Linked DNA regions of Homo sapiens. The protein of the gene in region 6 interacts with the protein of the main gene of each other region in a biochemical or structural test. Each region holds a gene or a part of one and is shown on either strand. Other genes may lie near its edges.

What was found.
Region 1: the proteins of CUL1 (region 6) and DCUN1D5 form a complex in vitro, tested with the Homo sapiens proteins (one study listed by BioGRID).
Region 2: of the proteins of CUL1 (region 6) and UBE2F, one has a biochemical effect on the other in vitro, tested with the Homo sapiens proteins (one study listed by BioGRID).
Region 3: the proteins of CUL1 (region 6) and PSMA6 form a complex in vitro, tested with the Homo sapiens proteins (one study listed by BioGRID).
Region 4: the proteins of CUL1 (region 6) and ARIH1 form a complex in vitro, tested with the Homo sapiens proteins (one study listed by BioGRID).
Region 5: the proteins of CUL1 (region 6) and DCUN1D4 are reported together in a solved structure, tested with the Homo sapiens proteins (2 studies listed by BioGRID, with this or other methods).
Region 7: the proteins of CUL1 (region 6) and ZC3HC1 form a complex in vitro, tested with the Homo sapiens proteins (one study listed by BioGRID).

What each region holds. Positions count from the first base shown.
Region 1 is NC_000011.10:103,082,161-103,085,660, forward strand, and holds part of DCUN1D5 (DCN1-like protein 5), read right to left. Parts: intron 1,167-3,500; coding exon 1,096-1,166; intron 680-1,095; coding exon 588-679; intron 1-587. UniProt on the Homo sapiens protein: Contributes to the neddylation of all cullins by transferring NEDD8 from N-terminally acetylated NEDD8-conjugating E2s enzyme to different cullin C-terminal domain-RBX complexes which is necessary for the activation of cullin-RING E3 ubiquitin ligases (CRLs).
Region 2 is NC_000002.12:238,040,014-238,043,282, forward strand, and holds the end of UBE2F (NEDD8-conjugating enzyme UBE2F), read left to right. Parts: intron 1-1,274; coding exon 1,275-1,325; 3' UTR 1,326-2,769; downstream 2,770-3,269. UniProt on the Homo sapiens protein: Accepts the ubiquitin-like protein NEDD8 from the UBA3-NAE1 E1 complex and catalyzes its covalent attachment to other proteins. Together with the E3 ubiquitin ligase RNF7/RBX2, specifically neddylates cullin-5 (CUL5).
Region 3 is NC_000014.9:35,312,882-35,316,381, reverse strand, and holds part of PSMA6 (proteasome subunit alpha type-6), read right to left. Parts: coding exon 3,323-3,500; intron 2,022-3,322; coding exon 1,927-2,021; intron 1-1,926. UniProt on the Homo sapiens protein: Component of the 20S core proteasome complex involved in the proteolytic degradation of most intracellular proteins. This complex plays numerous essential roles within the cell by associating with different regulatory particles.
Region 4 is NC_000015.10:72,564,830-72,568,329, reverse strand, and holds part of ARIH1 (E3 ubiquitin-protein ligase ARIH1), read right to left. Parts: intron 1,768-3,500; coding exon 1,725-1,767; intron 1,225-1,724; coding exon 1,153-1,224; intron 1-1,152. UniProt on the Homo sapiens protein: E3 ubiquitin-protein ligase, which catalyzes ubiquitination of target proteins together with ubiquitin-conjugating enzyme E2 UBE2L3.
Region 5 is NC_000004.12:51,841,759-51,845,952, reverse strand, and holds the start of DCUN1D4 (DCN1-like protein 4), read right to left. Parts: upstream 2,801-4,194; 5' UTR 2,711-2,800; coding exon 2,686-2,710; intron 2,382-2,685; exon of another isoform or gene 2,368-2,381; coding exon of another isoform or gene 2,211-2,367; intron 1,953-2,210; exon of another isoform or gene 1,881-1,952; intron 1,710-1,880; exon of another isoform or gene 1,610-1,709; intron 1,582-1,609; exon of another isoform or gene 1,554-1,581; intron 1-1,553. UniProt on the Homo sapiens protein: Contributes to the neddylation of all cullins by transferring NEDD8 from N-terminally acetylated NEDD8-conjugating E2s enzyme to different cullin C-terminal domain-RBX complexes which are necessary for the activation of cullin-RING E3 ubiquitin ligases (CRLs).
Region 6 is NC_000007.14:148,792,903-148,796,402, reverse strand, and holds part of CUL1 (cullin-1), read right to left. Parts: intron 1-3,500. UniProt on the Homo sapiens protein: Core component of multiple cullin-RING-based SCF (SKP1-CUL1-F-box protein) E3 ubiquitin-protein ligase complexes, which mediate the ubiquitination of proteins involved in cell cycle progression, signal transduction and transcription.
Region 7 is NC_000007.14:130,017,792-130,020,374, forward strand, and holds the end of ZC3HC1 (zinc finger C3HC-type protein 1), read right to left. Parts: intron 942-2,583; coding exon 873-941; 3' UTR 501-872; downstream 1-500. UniProt on the Homo sapiens protein: Required for proper positioning of a substantial amount of TPR at the nuclear basket (NB) through interaction with TPR.

The DNA.
Region 1 (3,500 bases), on a different chromosome or scaffold from region 6:
AATTCTATAACTTATGAAAATGTTCAAAGACAGGATCCTAAACTGAAAGTGTAGGACTATAAAATGGGTAAAGATTGCACGGGAGCAGTTACAACATTTCTACTTTTGTCCTTTATGAAATTCACTTGGCAATAAAGAAATCATAAAAGGGTTATGTAACTCTATCTTCAAATTTTTAAAGTCAAATATTAAAGTGAAGAAGGGAGAGGAGGCCCTAGAGCTTAGGGCTGCCCAACGAACATACTCCTTCGATAGTAGAATTCTGTATTGAGAGAGGAAAATCCTTATACTCAAACAACCTGTAAATAAATAGGTCTTTGATCATAGACTTTTAAGTCACTCACCAAGAGAATCAAGGAATTTTAATAGGACTGTACTAAGGTTCTTTCTTAGAGAATATAAAACATGGGGTACCTATATATTTGCCCAAGACCACAATATAATTTTTTCAATCCCCAAACTAATTGTTATAGATCAAACAGATTTGATTTAAGGTGAAACCTTACTCCTGAAAATTATGAAGCACAAAATATCAATTAAGATCTTCAAATAGGCCATCAAATTTGTTTTTTAAAAAAATTTCTTACTGTAATGAAGTCATTCCCTTTAACCATTCTTCCTTGGTAAAAAATCCCATGCTTTCAGCCTCCAATTTCCACGCTAAAACTAACATAATAATCTGGAAAGAACAGAACATAAAGGATAGGGGAAAAGTCAGCATAGAGATAATCATGTCTATATTTATCATGGAGAGCATTTTTACACAACTACTTCCATCCTTCAACTATTAAAGAGTACAACCTCTGGAATTATTAACTATATACAAAGAAATTGAGATGTGCCAATTTCTTAAAAGTAAAAAGTTCTAACAGTTTCTGAAGGTAGAATCTCTTATTCTATTACATATAACATTTGTATCAAGAAAGAATACATTTGCCCAACTTAAACTGATTAAAAATACCTTAAATGCAAATTTACAATATTAAACATGAAGAAATAAAATCTTCATACAAGATTAAAGTGTCTCGATTTTTAGTAATTTACGAATATGCTATACCCCACTTATATGCCATTCTACTTAGAAATAAAACATACATTTTCAGGTTCAACACCAATGTCTTCACAAAATTTTTCCATTCCTTCTGGCCCTACAACTTCATCAGGACCTTCAAAGACAAAAATAATTAACATATTTTGTTATAATATCAACATAAAACATAAATCGTCATGCTAAAGGTACCCATGAACACACCATAATATTTTGCAAATAATTAAATTTGAATTTTGGCATAGCTTTGATAAGTATAAATATTTGCTACAGGATTTAAAATTTAAAATTTGTGAAGTATTCTTTGAACACCAGATTACAATATGAAATTAAGAAAATTTAAAAAGCAGCAAAGAAATACTCCATTAGTATCAATCACAAGTTAGTACAAAAACTCAAACCAATCCATTAAAAAAAAAATTCACTGAGAGCCTACTCTGAATAAAATTTTTGACAATGCATGAATATGAAAAAACATAAGGCAGCTGGAGCTTCTTAATCTACTGGAATATCAGAACCAACACAAAGTTCAATACAGTAATCAGAAGGGGAATATATTTACCTATAAAACAGGCCATTTATTACCCTTTTGAAATACACTCAAATATAATTTAATTATTGAAAAAGACAAAGGTATTTTGAAAATAATGACTTATGGAAATTACTACATTCCATTTCCAGAAAGAGCTATTTTCCTTATCATCTTGGTTCTAAAACAGACAGCAAGCATTGATGTCACCTTAATGTAGAAACAGAAGTTTAATCTTTCAATTAGTTAGTGTCTATCATTCATCCAAAAATTAATTACTGGCATTTAACTTGTTCCTTATTTTACACCCTTAGCAACATTAATAAATCAATACATCAATTATCATTTTTTCAAAATGTTATCAGATTCCCAAAATATAGTAATTACATCATCACTAGGTCTCTTTTGTGACTGGATAAGAATAAAACAAATTTTGTAATAATATGAGAAATGTGTTTACCACTATGGGATTTTGAAAATATAATCTTGAGATATTATTCTTAAGAGTCAAGAGAAGCCTCTATTTTCCTTTTTCAAGGATGAAAATCCTCCAGCTTTATAAACCATAGACTAGACCAAGGCTGCTCAGGTAAATTTGACAGCACCATATTTAGGTTACTAGCACAACATAAAGTCAATACATTCTTGCTGCCTGAGATCCAAGCTGCTAAGATGACATTAATACTGGTCTGAAGCCAAAACCCTTTTTAATTTTTTTGTGTAACATGTTAAGTGTTATTAGGTTTAAATAAGTACTAACAATGCACTCGTGTTAAAAGGTGAAGGGGGTGATTAATTATAGGGCACTTTCTCTTCCTTTACATATTTGGAGAATTGTTTAAATGAGAATGTGTTAATTTTATAACTTAAAAGGCATACATATACAATAAAGGTGTTAAAATGCATAAATGAGTATGTATTCTTATATATGATTGAAAGAAAACAAAAATCAGATTTGAAAATTTAAGAGGCCCAGGCGCGGTGGCTCATGCCTGTAATCTTGGCACTTTGGGAGGCCGAGGTGGGATTATCACTTGAGCCCAAGAGTTCCAGACAAACCTGCACAACACAGGGAGACCCCATCTCTAGGGAAAAAAAAAATAGCCTTGTGTGGTGGTGCCAGTCTGTGGTCCCAGCTACTCAGGAGACTGAGGTGGGAGCATTGCTTGAGCCCAGGAGTTTGAGGCTGCAATGAGCCATGATCACGCCATTGTACTCCAGCCTGGGAGAGAGCAAGGCCCTGTCTCAAAAAAAAATAAAAAATAAAAAATTAAGGGAAAAGACAAACGGTTTTTTTAAAAGCCACGATGTAAATATATTGTAAATTTTTCTAAAGCATCAAGAAAACATACTTGCTCTCAAAGTTGCCATTAGTGATTCAAAGAGAAAGCTTTAGAGGATGTCTAGAAACATCAGCATAAGCTAGGAGCAGTGGCTCACGCCTGTAATCTCAGCACTTTGGGAGGCCGAGGCAGATGGATTACGAGGTCAGGATTTCAAGACCAGCCTGGCCAAGATGGTGAAACCCTGTCTCTACTAAAACTACAAAAATTAGCCAGACGTGGTGGCAGGTGCCTGTAATCCCAGCTACGCAGGAGGCTGAGGCAGGAGAATCACTTAACCTAGGTGGCAGAGGTTGCAGTGAGCCGAGATTGCGCCACTGCACTCCAGCGTAGGTGACAGAGCGAGACTCTGTCTCAAAAAATATAAAAAATAAAAAAGAAATATCAGTATAGCCCCCCTAGAAACTGGAGGATTACTTGGTGATTACTAATTAAAATTTGGTTAGAAGCAAGTCAAATGAGATTACATAGAGATATAATACCTTATAACTTAGATAAGGTCTGTAAATGTTAACTGACTTTGCCAAAGTGATGTAAATAGTAACAGATCTAAGTCTAAAGCGAGGTCTGTAACTAATGT
Region 2 (3,269 bases), on a different chromosome or scaffold from region 6:
GCCCATGTGGGAGGCTCCAAACGCCATCCTGTAGACAAATAGGGCGGTTGGCAGGGCAGAGGCACCTGGGTAGACTCAGAGCACTCCACTTTCTCACCCTGAGACCAGAGCAAGTCATGGGACCGTATCCATAGCTTCAAATTGGGAACTTGCCCGCCCTGGAAAGGGTCGCTGTGCTAACTAAAAGTGTGGCAGGAGGGCAGGCACCTGGTGCCCAGCTGGCCAGGACCATGCTCCAGGCAGGATCTCCCTGCAAGAGGGCATCGCGGCAGCAGCGAGGTATACATCGAGTGCCAGGTTATACCCTGCACATTGCCAGGTGTCGGGATTATGCAGTGGAATCAGCAAACAGGTTAGACTGAGGCTTAGACAGGAGGACTGAGGCTTAGCTAAGGAAATGGAGCTCATGCCCACTAAGAACTATGGTAACTGTGCTGTGTTCCCTGGGCAGTGGGGGCTGCATGGCATTGATGGGACCGAAGCAGTGTGATCCTGCAGGGACATCTGAGACCCAGCAGCTGTGTTGTAGGAGTGAGAGGGTTAAGAGCTCCAAGTCATTCTTACGGCTCATACAGTCCCATGGGATTTTACTCCTAACCTTGGGGAGACCAGATCCAGGGACAAACCTGACAGTGGCCCAGATCCGAGAAGATTGTTCCACCCATACTGGCCTGGGGTGATTCCTAGGTCCACACCGCCTTTGGTCACTGTCCACCTTCATTTCAATGCATGAGGATGGAGCTCTGTGGCACACCCAGCTCTCTTCTGGGCAGGGTGGTCATCCTGCCCAGAAGAGATGGGGGCCTGTACATGGGCTGTGAAGAGCAGGCACATTTTAAGTAGGTAGCAGCATCCAGGGAAATCATTCTAGGAAGACAAATCCAGAAACAAGGGTCTTCCTGAGAGCAGCAGCTGTGGCTCACATCCATTGTGGCCAAAGGAGTCTTGGCTTTGTGACCTCGACCACACTTTTCTGGGCTCCACTTTCCCCATCTGGAAAATGAGAAGGGATAGGTACCCCCTTAGGGTCCCTTCCACTCAGGCCTTCCACGTGCTCCCCCCTCAACATACCCAGCACTGTGTCTTGCGTGCAGTAGGCACCCAGGTCGTGGCGAAATGGCACTCAGACTCCGCAAGGTCCCAGTCCTTCTACCACCTTGGCGACCACAGGGGACCTTGGTGCTGGTGGATCTGACTTGTCCCTGAAGCGCTGCTTCACTCACTCACTCACTCCTCCTGTTCTTCTTTCTGTCCCCAATGCTGTTACTCCACAGGAGGACTTCCGGAATAAAGTGGATGACTACATCAAACGTTATGCCAGATGATAAAAGGGGACGATTGCAGGCCCATGGACTGTGTTACAGTTTGTCTCTAACATGAAACAGCAAGAGGTAGCCCCCTCTCCCGTCCTCATGCTCCCTCTCAGTCCCCTGGATTGCCCCAGTCCTGTGACCATGTTGCCCTGAAGAAGACCATCTTCATGACTGCTCATTGTAGATGGAGAATTCAACATAAATACAGCAAGAAAATGTGTTTGGGCTTCTGAAGAGTTGTCTGCTTACCTTAACATGTTTACTTTTTTGAACTTGTACTGTATAGGCTGTTGGTGAAATTCTTAAGAAGTTGTAATGAACTCAAAATTGAGGCCAGAGCTTGCTTTCCCTTTTCCCAAACAAAATTGGTTTTCTGCACAAGCGATGCTAATGATGTGTTCAGTGTAACTCGCAGATTGGCAATAAGATACCCGCTACAAACTGTGATTGGATGCAAAATCTCTTAGCTTCTTTCACGAATGTTGGCCCTGCCTAGATGTTGTGAAGCCTCCCAGAATGCATAGAGTCATTCACTGTAGATCTCTTATTGAAATGCGTATTTTATTTAATGTAAGTATATTTTGGAACAGATTTGTAATTTGTACAATTCAATGCTTTAATTATTTTTTCTATTCTCATTTAGTTTGTATTTTCATTGTATAGAGCAGACAGAAAGATGTTGGGTCAAGCAACTATTGAAGAGAAATACAAAGAAAATATGAAAGGCACATTATTCATTTTGTCCAAATGCAATGAGAATCTCACTCTTAAAAATCAGCTCTTGCTTTCGGGTCCGGATGTGGTGAGCACATTTTGGAGCCCTTTGAAGCTAGATTTGGATGATCAAAACAAAAAGGCAGGGAGCCCATTCTAACATGCTGCCCAGAGGAAACTGGCTGGAGCCTGGACCAGCTGGGGTTGATGCTTTTGCAGTGGTCATGTGATTGTGACCTGGTAGCTACTTATCAGAGAGCCAGACCCTGCTGTCCTGGGAGACAGGAGCGATGCCTCAGGAATCAGCCCAATGTCTGATGTCACTGAGACTGTACCTGTGGCCTTCTTCTGAGTTTGCTATGGCTCCAGGCCCTGCCGGTGGGGTGAGCCTCCTAGGCCTTGGAGGACCAGGAGTCAACAGTGGCATATGCCATCCTCGGCCAGGTTAATATACTGCAGAGGAAAAGCCCTGAAGAGAGGCAAGTGGATTTACTCCAGCATGTAGACATTTGAACCAGTGAAATCAAACACAAAATAAATGTCTGTCTAGTTTCATTTGCTGCCTGCCTAACACTCTCAAACTTAACTGCCAGCTTCCTTAGACCTCTGGATTCCCCCATCTGCCATCTACTGGGTTTAGTTTGTTTTTCTTAATTTATAGAATCTCTGATTGTGAGATCAGTCTGTCACGGAGACCCAGCAGGTGAGGAATGTAGGCCTTGCTTCCTCTTTGCACCCATTAGACTTGAGGGTGGCCCCTGGCTAACAGGCCACACAGAGCAGGAAGGGTGAGATTGGTTAAAGAGAATGATGGCATCTCAGGAGCTCAGGGCTTGTCCAGGAGACACATTAATCCCCACCTCTCAGGGCCTGGGAGAGGGAGGTACTGCAGCTTCACACTTTTCCTCTGCCTAGTGTCAGAGGAACTTGCCAGCTGAGCACTAGGCTTCCTCTCTAGGCAGGGCAGGAGGCCAGCAGCTAATTCCTGCCCCCTCTGACCCAGGAAATGAGGTTCTCTGCTTGGTGCCAGTCCCAGGCCCAAGTCAGGGCACATCCCATAGTAGTTGTTCGGGCTCCCTGGAGTTCCCCAGCTGGTGGTGCAGGTGTTGATGCAGGACTTTTCAGAAGAGCGCTTCTGTGGGAGAAACGCCTGCTGTCCAGTGGAAACGTTTATGCAGTGTACATGAAAGACAGTGTGCCCTCTGGACCACACTGAAAGTGGTAATATCAGTTATTCTGACA
Region 3 (3,500 bases), on a different chromosome or scaffold from region 6:
TGGAGTCTGACCCTGTCGCCCAGGCTGGAGTGCAGTGGCACAATCTTGGCTCACTGCAACCTCCGCCTCCCAGGCTCAAGCAATTCTCCTGCCTCAGCCTCCCAAGCAGCTGGGATTACAGGCGTCCACCACCACATCTGGCTAATTTTTGTATTTTTAGTAGAGATGGGGTTTCACCATGTTGGCCAGGCTGGTCTCAAACTCCTGACCTCAAGTGATCTGTCCACTTTGGCCTCCCAAAGTGCTGGGATTACAGGTGTGAGCCACCATGTGTGGCCCTGAACATGTATTTTCTAAATGATGTTTGCCTCGAAAGGAAGCAATTGTTTGGCAACCTTGTTAATGTGACCTATTACTACTAGACTTCTAAAAAGTGAAATTTGTCAAAAGGACATTTTTTAGTGCAACTGAAGGCAATATCAAGCAGTTTAAATAGTTGTTGATGCTTATGCTATGTACTGTAATTATTTACATATATTTACTATCACAGAATTTATAAATGATACAAAGTTTTTTGAAGACAAGATTTTTGATTCCTTACCAATTTAAAAAATAACAAATACAATTTTAAAGGTGGCAGGAAGGTCTCCAAACAGAAAAGAAAACAAGAACTAATTGTAGGTTCCTTAGAGAGATTTTAAGATTATTCTTGCTGAAATTTTTACTTAAAAAAAAAAAAGGCACCTTTTTCAAAAGCAACTTGATCCCTGCCCCCACCCCTCACCCCTACCCCAACCCAAGTTACAAGACTTCTTCCTACGGGAAGAAAAGCTAGGATAGATTCGCTTTTGGTGTTGTCGGTTGTTTTTTTAACAGATGAGGTCTCACTATGTTACCCAGGCTAGAGTGCAGTGGCTATTCACAGGCACTATCATTGCGCACTACAGCTTTCAACTCCAAGGCTCAAGCCATCCTCTTGCCTCAGCCTCCTGAGGAGCTGAGACTACAGATGCATGCCACAGCACCCAGCTGTTTTTTTTTTTTTAAAGTCCTATGAATTTTTCTGAATCTGTCATGTTTATATGACTTATCTGTGGGCAACCAAAAGAACAAATTAGGAAAAAAAAGAACAAACGAAAAACCTCTTCAAGGTCTAGTTAAGCTTAGTTTACCACTCCCGTACCCCACACCACAACCAAGACCATGTGTCTTTATGGTTGTGATCTAAGAATAGATACACATAATAGTTAAAATGCCTCCCAGTAGTTCCTTGTATCTGTCGATTTAACTGCAGTATTTTCATTAAAGATAAGAGCATCCTGGTCCATGGTATATCAACTGCCTCACAGGGCTGCTGGGAGGATTAAATGAGCTGATTATACGAAGCACTCAGTATGGATTTGAATCATGGAAGCTATAAGGCTGATGTGTGGGAGTTAGTCACTTAGTGAGTAAGAACACACACACACACACACACACACACACACACACACATCCAGCAACTGCAAGTCAATTAGCTGTATTCAAAATTTGGGCTTTCCAAAGATCTCTAGATAAGGGTCTGACATATATCAGTAACTCATATTGCTCCTCAAAGTTCTACTTAAATAACCACTAAATAACCAAAGTTCTATCTGAAAAACTTGCAAACTACTACTTTGGGAATTGAATTTGTATTGGCCTTAAACTAAAAAAAAGAAAACACTTATGCTAATTTTTTTCCTTACATAAGGAAGGTAACTTTATGTCATCTCTGGTGTTAGATATAAAATCACTCTGAAATAAGGAGAAAAGCTTTCATATCTGACTCTTAAATAGAGTCCAAAGTTTTAAAAACAGATCTCAGGTGCTGGGGAAAAAAACAAACACACAAACAAAAACTATAATGACAGTTAAAGAAAAAAGATTTCCCCCACAAGTTATAGGACACATGGACTCACACGCCTCCACCTTTCTAGTCTGCATGTGGCCCACAATATCACTCACCTGAATTTAGGATTTTCAACTGTCACTACTCCAACTTCTATTTCTGAAGGTTTGAAATCAATTGATAGAACAGTAGACAGGCATGTAATTGCAGTCTGAAAAAAAGTATTTAATGTTAAAATATAGTATTTTTTAGAGATTCCAAGGTTTTCTCATTCCTAGCTTATTCAAATCATGAGTCAATCAGGAGCTCCATGTTTCAATGAGGTAGTTCAATGTTACTAACAGACTGCTTAACTCTAATGTATTGCCTCCCAATGATGAGAAATTTTTTTCTACCAAGTCAAATAATAAAGGGGTCCATTAATTAAAATAGGATGATTTATACAAAAAGGTTTATTGGCTTCATGACCCAGGCACTACACTTCACTTAGCACTTGGGGTGAAATGGGAAAAGGATAAAGATGAATGATACTCTCTGCATCTTCAAGGAATTTACAGTAAAAACGATTTAAGAATGTTTTAAGTGTTGTTTGTTTGTTTTGTTTCTGTTTTTTGAGGCAGAGTCTCACTCTGTCGCTCAGTCTGGAGTGCAGTGGCGCCAGCCTGGCTCACTGCAACCTCAGGCTCGTGGATTCAAGCGAGTCTCCTGACTCAGTCTCCTGAGTAGCTGGAATTACAGGCGCCTGCCACCATGCCCGGCTAATTTTTGTATTTTTCATAGAGACAGGGTTTCGCCATGTTGGCCAGGATGGTCTCAAACTCCTGACCTCAGGTGATCTGTCTGCCTCCCAAAGTGCTGGGATTACAGGTGTGAGCCACCTTAAGTGTTTTTTTACCGGATGTGGTTATTTATGTAATTAATTATGAATTGCAATAAAAGAAACCTTTAAGAAATATTTAGACAGGGCCCAGTACTTCCTGAACATGAACTAGCTTTTTATCTCCTTTAAGCATACTTCCAAACCAAACGTAAAAGCATTAGATGGTAATTTTTTTTTGGTCACTTATCAGAAGCATGTTGTTAGCATCTTCAGAATGGCTTTAATTCCAGACTTACACCCAAAATCTACTAAAATTTTTGTTTTTAATTTCTTGGCAGTAAATAGGACTGGCCTCGAACACCTAGACTCAAGCAGTCCTCCAGCTTCAGCCTCTCAAGTAGCTGGGACTACAGGTGTGTGCCACCATGCCCAGCTGGTTCCTATTTTTATTTATATTTTCCTATTATATGCGTTTTGTTGAAAGCCACCTCAAATACATTACGAAATAAGGAATTAAGTGAATAAAAGCAACTCAAATTTTCCTATGTCAGCTGTATGATATCAATTTCATTATTAAGTTGACAACTTGAATCCTGGGATGTAATTCAGGAATAGCTTTGTATAGAAATTATACAAAGATCCTCACTGTTCTATATAGCATAAAAAAAGTCAGCTCCTTTTGGTTGACTTACTTCCACTGTCTGTTCAAATGTCCAATCAAATTTCTTCTTCACTTTTTTTTCAAGGAAGCTGGTTGACTCAGTTTGTTTAACTCCCGCTGCAGTGGCTTTAAACCCACAGTAGTAACCTGCAGGATCACACTTATATACCTGAGGGCCTTGCTCTTCATCTATACCAATTAAAATCATA
Region 4 (3,500 bases), on a different chromosome or scaffold from region 6:
GGACTTAAGGAACATTTCTTGTGGGAAAATCTTCAATTTTCAAAAAAAGAATGCTTGGCTAAGAATTTTTTTTTAATAACAAAACAAGTAACCACTTTCTGACATTACAGTATATTTATAGTAAGGTTTTCTTTGATTGACGTGAGTTATGCTTATCGTGATGGTTTTGGAGGGAACAAAAAATATTAATTTCTACCATATATTCCTTAAAGACTTGGGCATTTGTTTTATGTGGCAAGATTCACTGTTTCACTACTTTCTGGGAGACAGAAATATAAATTCATGTTTTATATATAAGTATGTAAGATGTATATTTAAACACACACAGACAACCTGCGTCGGCCTTCATTGTTTACACACTTCTTAATCTCATTGTCCTGTGATGACTGAGGCAACAGTTCAAAGATAGCTTTATATACTATGGGTCAAACAACTCAGCATTCTTTAAAGCATCATCTTTACATGTACAAAATAATACTAAAAATGAATAGCCCATGAACCAACCTACCATTCATTACCCAAGTCACTCACTATGGGGATAGGATAGGACTGAATTACATAAAGGATGGATAATACGACTTTGTATTAAAAGACTAGCTGGGTACACGGTTGGCATTCAAATGCTTGCTCATTAGATTAGTGATCGAGGAGAAGGGTACTCAAGATTTAAACACTTCTAAGACATTTGTCTGGGGTTAAGAAAGTGAATTTTGAAATTGAATTTTGAAACTAGTATCAAGAGCAATGTACTTCAAAACAAAAAATTAGAAACAAAAATGTAAATTAGCCTAACAGAACCAAGCTAGGCGGAGTAAACTCCAATGCATTTGTATACTAAATGGCAGCCAAGCACAAATCCCACACTTGAAAAATTATCAGCTTTTTCCTCTACAGAACACTAATTTTTTTTCCAGTAGAAGAAACCTAAGGCAGAGAACTGTGGATGCTGTACTACAGTACTCAATACTCTAAAATAAACTCAAAGAGAAAAAGGAAATAACAGGCAAACATTCTGGGAAAAAAAAAAAAAGACTCAATGGAGAAAAAGATGAAACAAAGCCTGTAAGTAGGTCACCTCATTGCTTTTGCTAATGCCAAAGTACCAATCCTTATCATTTTTATTACCAAGAGTTACTGAAGGAAAACACCAACCTTTGTGTTGGCTGCAATCCAATTGGAGGTTTCACTGTCATCATCACACTTTTTAATCCATTTCTTTAACCACTGTTTGAAAATAACAACGGTTAGGATACAACAAAAGACTTTTAAAAATAGCAAATTACTTTAGCACTTAACTATAGTCAAGCTTAAATGTAAAAGCCAATGAATAAGATTATCACTAGGCTCACATCCTCTTAAGCCAGGGAAATCCCATAGCTACAATGTCCAGTATATATAAAATCAACCAAAGCAGGATTTTCTTTGGCAGAAGCTGAGTGGGGAACCTAGAGCTTGAAGAGAAGCCCAACTGCAAGGTGTGTATTCCCCTAATTACAAAGCCTGACAAAGAGGTGCCTTAGCCATGGTTATCCTAATAACAATCAGGAGCTGACTTGGCTTATCCTAAGGAATTACCTCTGAATACATGTAATGATCATCTGAAATTAAAAGGATAAAAAAAAATCTATCAATAGATAGATAACAAAATCATCAGCTATGATTTTTAGTCACTAAGTCTTAGAAGTGTGCCATTATTTAAAAATTGAAATGTCAGACAAACTCACCTTACATTTAACAGGATCATGCCAATTTTCTCCACAGTTAAAGCTGTTAAGTGACACAAAGAGTTAATAGAATTAAGGCCTACCTACTGTAAGCAAGTAAATAAGCCAATCATTTCATGCCTTATAGTTCCACAGTATTGTCACTAGTTTCTAGTGACTGGCAAATACAAGGAGAGAACCCATGTCTGCTTTACAGTTAATTACCTAGAATTTAGTAGTAGAACTAGCACATAGTGGGTACTCAATATGTGTGAAGAATGACTATAAGCATGAAGACACGCTTTGATGACAATTTCATAATAATTGTTGCTAAGGTGCCTCAGACTATATTGAGAAGTTTCAACCCATGCTTCATCAGTGCATTTTTAATCTTTTACTTAACACCCTAAATGAAGAATAAAAGGCTGACTTTGTAGGTTACTTATATAATTTAGTACTAATACACAGTAAACAATATATGGGAAGCAAATAGGTCACATCTTTGCATTATTTAAACAAATGAACCTCCGCCCTGTAGAGGGAAATGGTACTGGGCAAGGTATAAAACAAAAAGACTAAATACTCACTAAACATGTGTTAATCAGTAATTCACTTTTGTTTTCTAAGTTCATGACATATACACTTGTAAAAGAAGTATAATTAACAAACACAAATGCTTAAGAAAAAAATAATAAAATGACAGATTAATTAGCTAATTAAGTAATTTACGAATGGCAAAAAGTCCTTTGCTAAAGACAGAAACAAACTACTATTGATTTAAATCAGGTTAAGATAAATGGTTATTTCTGAAAAGAAAGATGGGGAATGGGAAGGAGCAGGGAACCAAGGAGCTTCAAATATATGTGTCATGTTTTATCTCTTAATGAAGAAAAACAAAATACTAATTTTGATTTAACTGGATTGTAGCTATATAGGTATTCACTGCTGTATTCTCTATACTTTTATGTTTGAAATGTGTCACGCTAAAAATACATTGGAAAGTAGGTATTATCCACCTTTTCTCTAAAATAACAATACATAATTAATCTTTATCGAAACAGTATGTATTTTACACATACTTAATCTCTGTGAGCTTACCTGCTCTTTTTGGAAATATTTATTATTAATGATGTGTTAAGTGTAATTCTATAGATGTTTGGAGGAAAAAAAGAAAGGTATGGAATACCAATAAAATATTTCCCCCTCCAAACCACCCCGCAGCAAAAAAGAAAATCTGGCTGGCCATGGTGCTTCTCACCTGTAATCCCAGCACTTAGGGAGGGCCGAGGCAGGTGGATTACTTGAGGCCAGGAGTTCAAGACCAGCCTGGCCAACAAGGTGAAATGCTGTCTCTATTAAAAATAAATACATAAATAAATAAACAAATAAATAAATAAATAAAAATTAGCCAGGCGTGGTGGCACACGCCTGTAATCCCAGCTACTCAAGAGGCACAAGAATCACTTGAACCTGAGAAGCAAAGGTTACAGTGCGAGATCGTGCCACTGCACTCCAGCCTGGGTGATGGAGTGAGACCCTCTCTCAAAACAAAACAAAACAAAAAATCTATTTGCTGGGTCTAGAGCCCCTTGACTTGATTGGCTTCTTACTCCTCAAGACCCTCAAAGGAACAGAAAATCATCTTAACTTCTAGCAGGATATAAATGTTTGTGTCCCCCTAAAATGTGTATGTTAAAACTTAATAACCAATGTGACAGTATTAGGATGTGGAGCCTTTAGGAGGTGAATGGAATTGGCATCCTTTTTAAAAAAAAAAGGGGCCCAGAGAGCTGCCTT
Region 5 (4,194 bases), on a different chromosome or scaffold from region 6:
TATTTTTATATTACCAAGAGTTTCCTGGATATTTCACCACACGATTAAGTAAAATATGACAGATAGATATAAATGATCTCCACAAGAACACCACACACATTGCCCAATTTTTCACTCATCATGAAAAGAACCATCAAACAATCAAGTATCCAAGTTCAGTATGTTTGTAACCACACCAAAAGGTTTACAAATCTTAGGACTTCTTGGTAATATTTTTATCATCAGAAAAATTACAATATTCTTCTAATGACTATGTTGCAAGTAGTTTCATAATACCTTATATATTACATACAAAAATCTATCATCTCTGCATTAATCTTAGCCTTCTACATTACAGATTCTGGAGTCCCTTCCCTGTAAACAGTAAAGGGAACTGGTGAAGGATGTGACGTTTAGGGAGTCTACTTATGGAGAGGAAGGTTTCTAGTATTAAGGAGAGAAGGAATTGCAGCCTGCAGCTAATAATAAAACAAGCAAACAAAAAAAGTCTTATGGTTCTCCACTTTTTACAGTTTTCTTCTATTCTCATTTGCTTTCCAAGCTTCTTCGAAAATTGAAGACGTCACATATTACCTTTGCTCACCTTCACATTTCCACCCTAAATTCCACTAACCCACCTCCATCACTCATTTCAAGACAGTTATTTTTTCAAACACCCCAAGAAATACCAACACATAGTTTATATTATCGTTACAAGGGTTACGTGTACCTCCACTGTGTTCTCATATTTATGCAAGGGAATGCTGGAACCCAGTGCTTACACACACTGGATGCCAAAATTAAATACACCATTCTAAAGGCTGCTTTACATTGTGTTGCTTCTTAAATGTTTTCCCACAACCCGTGCGCATGATGGTACAAGACCAAGCATTTATTCCACAAGTAAGGCCACAAAATGCAGGGGGAAATTCACTTGGGGACCAAGAACCTAAGCGTGAAGAGGGCTGCGCCTGGCGTGGGCTCTCCCTCTCCCAAGGGAGAAGGGCTGGGGAGTCGCTCCGTCCCTGGGAACTCAACCGCCTCCCGAGAGCGCGCAGGAGCTGGCCGGGGAATAAAGCACGAGTTGGCCGAGCAGGAAGGCTCCAAGGGCGCGCTGCATGCCGGGACCCGTTTCCACAGTTACCCACGTGCACCCAACCCAACCGCGGCCGGGCGCGGCCGCGACTACAAGTCCCAGAATTCGGCGGGACCGCCTTTCCCCTTCATACCCGTTGACTGGAGACAAACCCTAAAGGAAACCCCTCAAGCGCCCTCCCAGCACGCCTGGGAGAAGTCGCGCCCCCCGGGCGTGGGGCGCGGCCTAGGGCCCGGCCATCCCTCTAAGGAAGCGGGTTCCATGGCACCAACCCCCACACCTGATAGCCAGAAATTAGACAACTGCGTCACAGACTATCAAACCCACGGACTGCCAGGGACCCCGACACCTCCCCGGCGCCAAGCCCCCGACCCGGCCATCAGGGCCCGACCCCTCCGGCTCCCGCTGCTGAAACCCCGCAGCCCGCACCCCTGCCCCGCCTCCTAGTCCCGCTGCCGGAGCCCGCGCCAGCGCTGACCTCGCTTCCCGCCGTCCGGGGGGAACCACGGCCAGTTCCAACCTTAGGGCACTTACCCCGTCTCCTCCACCTCAGCCCCGCCCCCTCCTCTCTCCGCACCCCGAAGCTTGGACTCCCCCCTTCAAGGGACCCTGCCTCGACAGGGAGAGGAAGTACCTCCCCTAAGCACAGTCTGACACCCCCTTAGCCCGGCTCCGGACCGAATCTGGACGTGACAGTCCTCCTGCCCAACTCCGCCCCACCTCCCCTTCCTCCCCGACTAGCTCCTCACCCCCATTTCATATTCTCCACCCCTGCCCCCACTCTGCCACCCCAAATCCTACCCACCTTTTTCTCCTCTTCCTCCCAATCGCCCTACCCTTCCACACCTGCCCCATCTCTTTACCCCAACATCTTCCACTCCCACCACTCTCCGTTACCCACCGCCCTTCCAACGCCCCTCCCGCCCCGCAGGACTCCCCAACTACCATTACACCCCAGTCCCTCCCACCACCTCGCTTTCCCGTTACATCAGCCCTCGTCCAGTCGCCCGCCCTCCTGCCCCGCTCGGCCGCTGCCCCCATTCCCCCACCCCATTGTTCGCCGCCCCCCCCCCACCCCCCCGCCAACCAGCCCTTCTTCCCATTGTCCCCGCCCCCGCGCCCCCCTCGCACTCACCCGCCTTTCTCACGGAGCCGCCCGCACCACTCAGCCCTTTGGAAATCCTCACCCTTGTGCCCCGCTCGCTCGCTCGCTCCCTCCCTCTCCCCGCCGGTGCCACCCCCCCACATCCCCGGCCCTGCCCGCTACAGCCCAACGCTGCCTCCACCTCCATGCACCCCGGACACTCCGATCTCGGCCCTTCATCGCACGTCCAGCCCTCCCTTCCCCCAACACTGAAAGAGAGCCAGTCCCCACCCCCCTCACCTCCGCCCTCCCCGCAGGCCGGTCCCTTCCCCCCACGCCCGCCCCCGCCCCACGCCGCCCGCAGCGTCACCGCCCGCCCCGGCCCCGGGAGGGGAAGGGGTGGTTCCCAGGCAGGGGCTCCCGGCGCGTTTCGGGACCCGAGGCGTGGGGCGGGGACTGCGGGAGCCGAGTGGCGAGTTTGGCAGCCGCCCGGCCCCGGCCCGCTGGCTGGCTCTCTGCTACTCACTGACAGCGGCGGCATCCGAGTGCATTTTCAGGCAGCTCACACCCGGCTCGCCGCCCAGGCTCCCGCGCTCGCCTCGCGGTCCCCCCACCAGCTCACTGCACCTCGGCTCGAAGCTGAGGACCCGCCGCCGGGCACTCCCAGCCCGCCCATCTCGCCTTCTCCATTGGCTAAACCGCGGCTCAGGGGCCGCCCTGCTGCGTCTCTCATTTGACAAAAGGAGTGCCCATAGCGCCGGTCTGGAGCTGGCAACGAGGCCCCGCCCCCCACTGGCCAATACGATTGGTCCTGGGGCCTTGTCTCCGTAACGCCCCTGGCGGAGGCCATGCTCCGGAGCAGCGGGTTGGGCCCGGCTGCTGTCAGTCACCCCCAGGGGTCCGAGAGCGCGTGTAGGGGCGAAGCTGGGAAATTGGTCCACCTTGACCCTGAAACCCCGCCCAGTGGCGGGCGGGATTGGTGGAGCTGGAGACCCACCAAGAAAGATGGGTCGGCGTCTGAAACAAAGCACGCGAAGTGTTTCCCAAAGAATAGAGCAGCGCAGCGCAGTTGGGGGCGGCTCGTACCAGCTGCTGGAAGTAGGGAAATGCGTCCGTCCCTAGCGCCCGGCGCGACGCGGCCGGGTCTCCCGCCACTTGTCCCACGACACTTGTCCAGTTCGCGCCGAACTCGGACTGGGACTTCTCTTGTCAGCTGCTTCCTACCGCAGGAAACTGGATTAAGAATTGCCGCGTCTTAATTTCCAGCAAACCTTCTGGTGGGGAGCAAATTTCCATTTCTCCTACGAAGATCCATCCTCTCCCCACTTTCGAAATGTACTTCTTTTCCAGAGTCCGCATACTTGTTTCGCAGAGTTCGCACACTTCTTTCCTCTAGTCACTAATGTCTGTTAAAGAGGCTTCGAATGCCACGAGCATTGTCCGTCACACACATCTGTATGCCCCAGACATCAGACAGAAATACAGGGCCGCGCTCTGAGCTGCGGACTGAGCCTAACACATGGACGAGTCCAGGGGGCAGACCACCAGCCCGTGAAAGACCCCCGGCGGCATCTAAGAAAACCTGTCACTCCCGCGGAGAGGCCGTCCAGAAATTGAAACTGGCTGTTATTTGGCAGAGGGAGACGTTAATTTTGGTGAATTCTTCTGACCCTAAGTCAAGAATTCGCACCATTTCCATGAGTCCTGCCCTGATTTTTCAATACTTGAAGCTAACTTATCACACCGCATTATGGTAACAGAACAATATTTCGAGATATTAACGGAGGATTCCCCCCACCCCAACCCACCCCCACCCTACCCTGCCTCCACCCTCATCCCAGCCACCAACTCCAACAACAACACACCTACAAGGCATCCCCATATCCTAAGGCCCTGGGCCATCTGGGAGCCTCAAAGAGTAGGTGACACCACAAATCACAGGTAACAGAACGCACGGTCTTTTTGGTTTTAGATTTCTACAGCCCAGGCTTTTGGGTTTCCAGGCTCTGAAATTTAGATTTTAAATCAGGACACA
Region 6 (3,500 bases):
TTATGAATATAAATGCAAAACTCGAGAAAATACCGGCAAGCTAAACCCAACAACATAGAAAAAGGATTATATACCATGACCAAGTGGGACTCACCCTAAGAACACCAGGGTGGTTCAACATCAGTGCAATACACCATATTAACAGACAAAAAAGCAGTTATTTTGACAGAGTAGAAAAAGCATTTTGACAAAATACAACACTCTTGCATGATACAAAATTCAATAAACTAAGAATAAAAGGGAACCTCTTTAGTCTGATAAAGGACATCTAGTAAAAGCTCACAGCTAACACCATCACTCTTTAACATCACAGTTAAACAGTAAAAGACTGGAAGCTTTCCCAATAAGGGCAGTAACAAGACAAGGATGCTTGTTCTTGCCACAAATTCTAGCCAGAAGAATCAGGCAAAAACAAAGACAAACAAAAAAGAAATAAAAGGCAGCCAAATAAGAAAAGGAAGAAGCAAAACTGCCTGTATTTATAGATGATATGACAGTATATCAAAAAACTCTAAGGAATCCCCCCAAAAACTATTTGAGCTAATAAATTAGAGCTAATAAACATTTAGCAATGTTATAGGAAACAGAATCAAAATACAATAATTAGTTGTACCTTTTTTTTTTTTTTTTTTTGAGACAGAGTCTTGCTCTGTCGCCCAGGCTGGAGTGCAGTGGCGCAATCAGGGCTCACTGCAAGCTGCGCCTCCTGGGTTCACACCATTCTCTCGCCTCAGCCTCCCGAGTAGCTGGGACTACAGGCACCTGCCACCACGCCCGGCTAATTTTGTTTTTGTATTTTTAGTAGAGACTGGGTTTCACCATGTTAGCCAGGATGGTCTCGATCTCCTGACCTCGTGATCCGCCCGCCTCGGGCTCCCAAAGTGCTGGGATTACAGGCGTGAGCCACCACACCCTGCGGTACTTAGTTGTACTTCTATACATTAGCAACGAGCAATCAGAAAGTGGAACAGGCTGGCATGGTGGCTCATGCCTGTGTAATCCCAGCACTTTGGGAGGCCAAGGTGAAAGTGTCACTTGAGCCCAGGAGTTCAAGACCAATCTGGGCAACACAGTGAAACACCATCTCTACAAAAAATACAAAAATTAGCTGAGCATGGTGGCAAGCGCCTGTAGTGCCAGCTACTCAGGAGGCTGAGGAGAGAGGATCATTTGATACCGCAGTGAGCTATGACTGCACCATTGCACTCCAGCCTGAGCAAGAGACCCTGTCTCAAAAAAACAGAAAAAAGTGAAATTAAGAAAACAACTCTGCCAGGCACGGTGGCTCACGCCTATAATCCCAGCACTTTGGGAGGCCGAGGCAGGCAGATCACTTGAGGTCAGGAGTTCAAGACCAGCCTGGTCAACATGGTGAAACCCTGTCTGTACTAAAAATACAAAAAATTAGCCAGGCATGGTGGCGCACGCCTGTAATCCCAGCTACTTGGGAGGCTGAGGTGGGAGAATTGCTGGAACCCAGGAGGCGGAGGTTGCAGTGAGCCAAGATTGCACCACTGCACTCCAGCCTAGGAGACAGAGCAAGACTCCGTCTCAATTAAAAAACTAAAAACCAATTCCATTTATAATAGCATCAAAAAGAATAAACTAGGAATAAATTGAAAGTAGTAGAAGATGCATACACTGAAAACCATGAGACACAGTTGAAAGAAAAGACAACCTAAATAGATGAAAAGACATCCCATGTTCATGGAGTGGGAGACTTAAAATACTGCTGAGATGGCAATACTCCCCAAAGCAATCTATAGATTCAGTGCAATCCTTATCAAAATCTCAACTGCACTTTTTGTAGAAATGGACAAGCTGATCTTGAAATTCATAAGGTAACATAAGGGATCCAGAATAGCCAATATAATCTTGGGGGAAAATAAAACGAAGTTAGGGGTCTCGATTTCAAGATTTACTGCAAAACAACAGTAATCCAGACAGTGTGATACTGGCATAGTAAAGATATACAGATCACTGGAAAATAATTGAGAATCCAGAAATAAACCCATATATACCTATGGCCAACTGACTTTTGACAAGTTTGCCAGCACCAAACAATAGGGAGAGAATAGTCCTTGGCCTCAGACTAGGCAATGATTCCTTAAAAATGACACCAAAACCACAAACAATATAAAGAAAAAATAGATAAAATAGGCTTCATCAAAATTAAAAATGTGTGTATATAAGAAAGTAAGAAGACAACCCACAGAATGGGAAAAAACATTTGTAAATTACATATTTGATAAGGATCTAGTATACAGAATATTAAAAGAATTCTTACGACTCAACAACAAAAAGACAAATAACCCAACTGAAAAATGGGCAAAGAATTTGATCAAACATTTCTCCAAAGAAGATATACAAATGGCAATAAACACAAAAAAGATTCTACACATCATTAGTTGTTAGAGAAATGCAAGTCAAAAACTGCAAGATACTACTTCACATCCACTGGGATGGCTATAATTTTTTTTAAAAATGAAAATAACAAATGTTGGTGAGGATATGGAGAAACTGAAAGTTTCATACACTGTTGGTGAGAATATGAAATGGCACAGCCACTATGGAACAGTCTGGCAGTGCCTCAAAAAATTCAGCTATTACATGACTCAGCAATTCTATACCTAGGTATATACCCAGGAAAATTGAAAACATGTATTCACAGCAGCATTGTTCATAATTGGAAACAACTTAAATGTACATCAACTGATGAACAAATAAAATGTGGTCCATCTATACATTGGATTATTCGACCACAAAAAGAAATGAAGTACCAACACATGCTAGAACATGGGCAAACCTTGCAAACAGTATACACTGAGGGAAAGAAGGCAGGCACAGAAAGTCATGTGTTATATGATTCCATTTATATGAAATGTCTGGAGTAGGCAAATTGATAGCAAATTAATGGTTGTCAGGGGCTGGGAGCTAGCGGGCAGTTACTGCTAATGGGTGCAGGTTTCTTTTTGGGGTGATAAAACACTCTGGAATTGGATAATGGTGGTAGTTCTATAAGCTTGTGAATATACTAAAAACCACTTTGTACACTTTAAAATGACTTTTATGTTATGTCAAATTTTATTATCTAAAATATATCTCAATAAAAAATATGGCTAGCAGGAAAAATAATACTAAAGTGGAAATTTAAGCTTAGTAAGAAAAGCCTAACTGGTTAAATGAATGAGAGAAAAGCATGGATGAGGAGTATGTGTGTGTGTGTTACACGTAGTTTTATTTTTAAGAGACAGGGTCTCTGTCACCCACGCTGGAGTACAGTGGCACGATCATAGCTCACTGCAGCCTCGACCTCCCAGGCTCAAGTGATCCTCCCGCCCCAGCCTCCCAAGAAGCTGGGACTACAGGCATGTGCCACCATGCCTGGCTCAACAATGAGTTTTAACATGAAGCTTTTTGTAGTGCGTATTAAAATCCTGGAATAAGGCCATATTCATATTCATGAGGCAAACATCTATTTCAAATTAAAGATGCCCATA
Region 7 (2,583 bases), about 19 Mb from region 6:
CTTCAGTACAAAAGTATAAAACAAAACAATCTCAGTGACGAAAAACATGGCATATCAGAGAATAATCACTTTCTAGCCTTTGCTAGGTCATGGTTACTTTATCAGTGGGCAGTTCAGGGTCCACCTTCTCTACCACAAAAACTGATGATCCCCCAAAAGCAACGAGTCTTGGGGAAGCCCAACTGGGGGACTCATGCATTCAATGGCACATGGAGAGGGGTCTCTTCTGAAGTGCCTTCCTCCCCATTACATTGTTTTATTCTGTTATTATCAAAGCAAGGAGAAAATTATCAGTTGACCATTCACTATAACACACCAGGAAATTTCCTGGTGGCATAATGAAAATCATCTTGCTTTTGGTTTAGGAAAGATTATACCTCCTTGACTGGAATCACAAATTTTAGGCTTTGCAGCCAATCTGAAAATCAAAAGTTGAATGTTCCACTGAAGTTTCTCCGGCCCACAGGGCAAGGGGGAAAACAGTTCTCCAACAATGAGAATCTTAGCAAATATTTTATTAATACACACTGTCATAGTCCTAGGATAGAAGAGTCCTCAGAACACTGCTCCACATTGAAGATGCTGAAATGGGTGGTCAGGTCCTTAGTCTTCCTTCTAGTCTGTTAATCCCACACTCCTTTAACAGAACCATGCTTGCTGCCCTTACCCTGTCCACATCCCTGAAAGGAAACGGGTCTCTCTCAGCCAGATGCAGATAGTTGACACTCACTGCCTTTGCTATGGCAGGGGGCTCCTTATGATTAACCCAGAACAGGAAAAACTTAGTGTCAGCTGACCGAAAGGAACTCAGCCTTAATTTTTCAAAAAGTCACTCTCATTCCAGCTATCTCCAGGAAGGCGCTGGAGTATCTTCAGCATGAGCACAGAGATTCCCACTGCCGAAATATTCGGAATACTTTCCTTGATTTCTCAGAGAGACTCTGTAGGTAGAAAAGCTTATTATTAGTGATTACGTTCTTTTATAGAGACAAAGGATAGATCATTTGTCCCACAATGATCTGGATATGTCTAGGACTAAGTAAAAATTCATTTTGTAGTATGCTATACATAATGTATACCTAAAGTCAGACTAAAGATCGAGGGGCCAACGTTCTACTGTCAGACTCCTGTTAACACACTCTGAGCCTCTAAGACACGGCTCATATCCTCCCTTCAGGCATCTGTATCTGTCCTCATCTTTGTACTTGAGGATGACACTTCTGACTTGCCGTTAGTACAGCACATGTTTTGCACTGGTTTTTCTTTTTTTTTTTTTTTTTGAGACGGAGTCTCACTCTGTCACCCAGGCTGGAGTGCAGTGGCGCAATCTCGGCTCACTGCAAGCTCTGCCTCCCGGGTTCACGCCATTCTCCTGCCTCACCCAGTAGCTGGGACTACAGGCACCCGCCACCACTCCTGGCTAATTTTTTGTATTTTTAGTAGAGATGGGGGTCTCACCGTGTTAGCCAGGATGGTCTTGATCTCCTGACCTCGTGATCCGCCTGCCTCGGCCTCCCAAAGTGCTGGGATTACAGGCGTGAGCCACCACGCCCGGCCTGCACTGGTTTTTCATTCATGATGCTGAATTGGCCCTAGTTCATTATTTATTGTGAATAAGTACTTATACTTAATGTGATGCCTAGCTGAGGTTAACAGTATAAACCAAGGACAACTAATAAAAACAGAGTTGAATGACCCCTATGAGTTTAAGCTCTGGCCTTGGTCTTCACCGCTTTTATGTTTTAGCCAGCAGTGCTAATAATAGGAAGAATCGCAGTGCCATCTGATCATGCCAATGAAGTACTCTGAGATTCTGAGAAATGGTGGTAAAGGGAGACAAAGTAATTCATTAGGAGACAAAAGCTCTTGGTGAATCAGAACACTTGGTTCTGTCTGCCTTTGAGAGTCACAATGAAGAGCAAGTATTCCACGCAGAAAGGGTCTCAGTGAGAGTACAAAGAATGTCTAGCAAGATGATCCACAGTTACCTCCAGTTTCTCATATGACGCTTTCACAGGTTTTTTTTTTTTTTTTTTTTTTTTTTGAGACAGGTCTCGCTCTGTCGCCAGGCTGGAGTGCTGTGGTGCCATTTCAGCTCACTGCAACCTCTTGACTCCCTGGTTCAAGCGATTCTCCTGCCTCAGCCTCCTGAGTAGCTGGGATTACAGGCATATGCCACCACGCCCAGCTAATTTTTGTATTTTTAGTAGAGATGGAGTTTCACCATGTTGGCCAGGATGGTCTTGATCTCCTGACCTCATGATCTGCCTGCCTCGGCCTCCCAAAGTGCTGGGATTACAGGCGTGAGCCACTGCGCCCGGCCCACTTTCACAGTTTTTTAAAAATCTATCCTCTTTGAGGATGTTTCAATAAGTTCCAGGAGGAAAAAGTTTGAACTCTTACTAATGACTGAGGGAAATTTAGTTAATAGAGTGACAAAGTTGAAAGAAACCTGAGTTGAAAAAATAGTATACACTTTTTTCTTTTTTTTTTTTTTTTGAAAGGGAGTCTCACTCTGTTGCCCACGCTGGAGTGTAGTAGTGCGATCTCGGCTCACTGCAACCTCCACCTCCCAATTCTCCT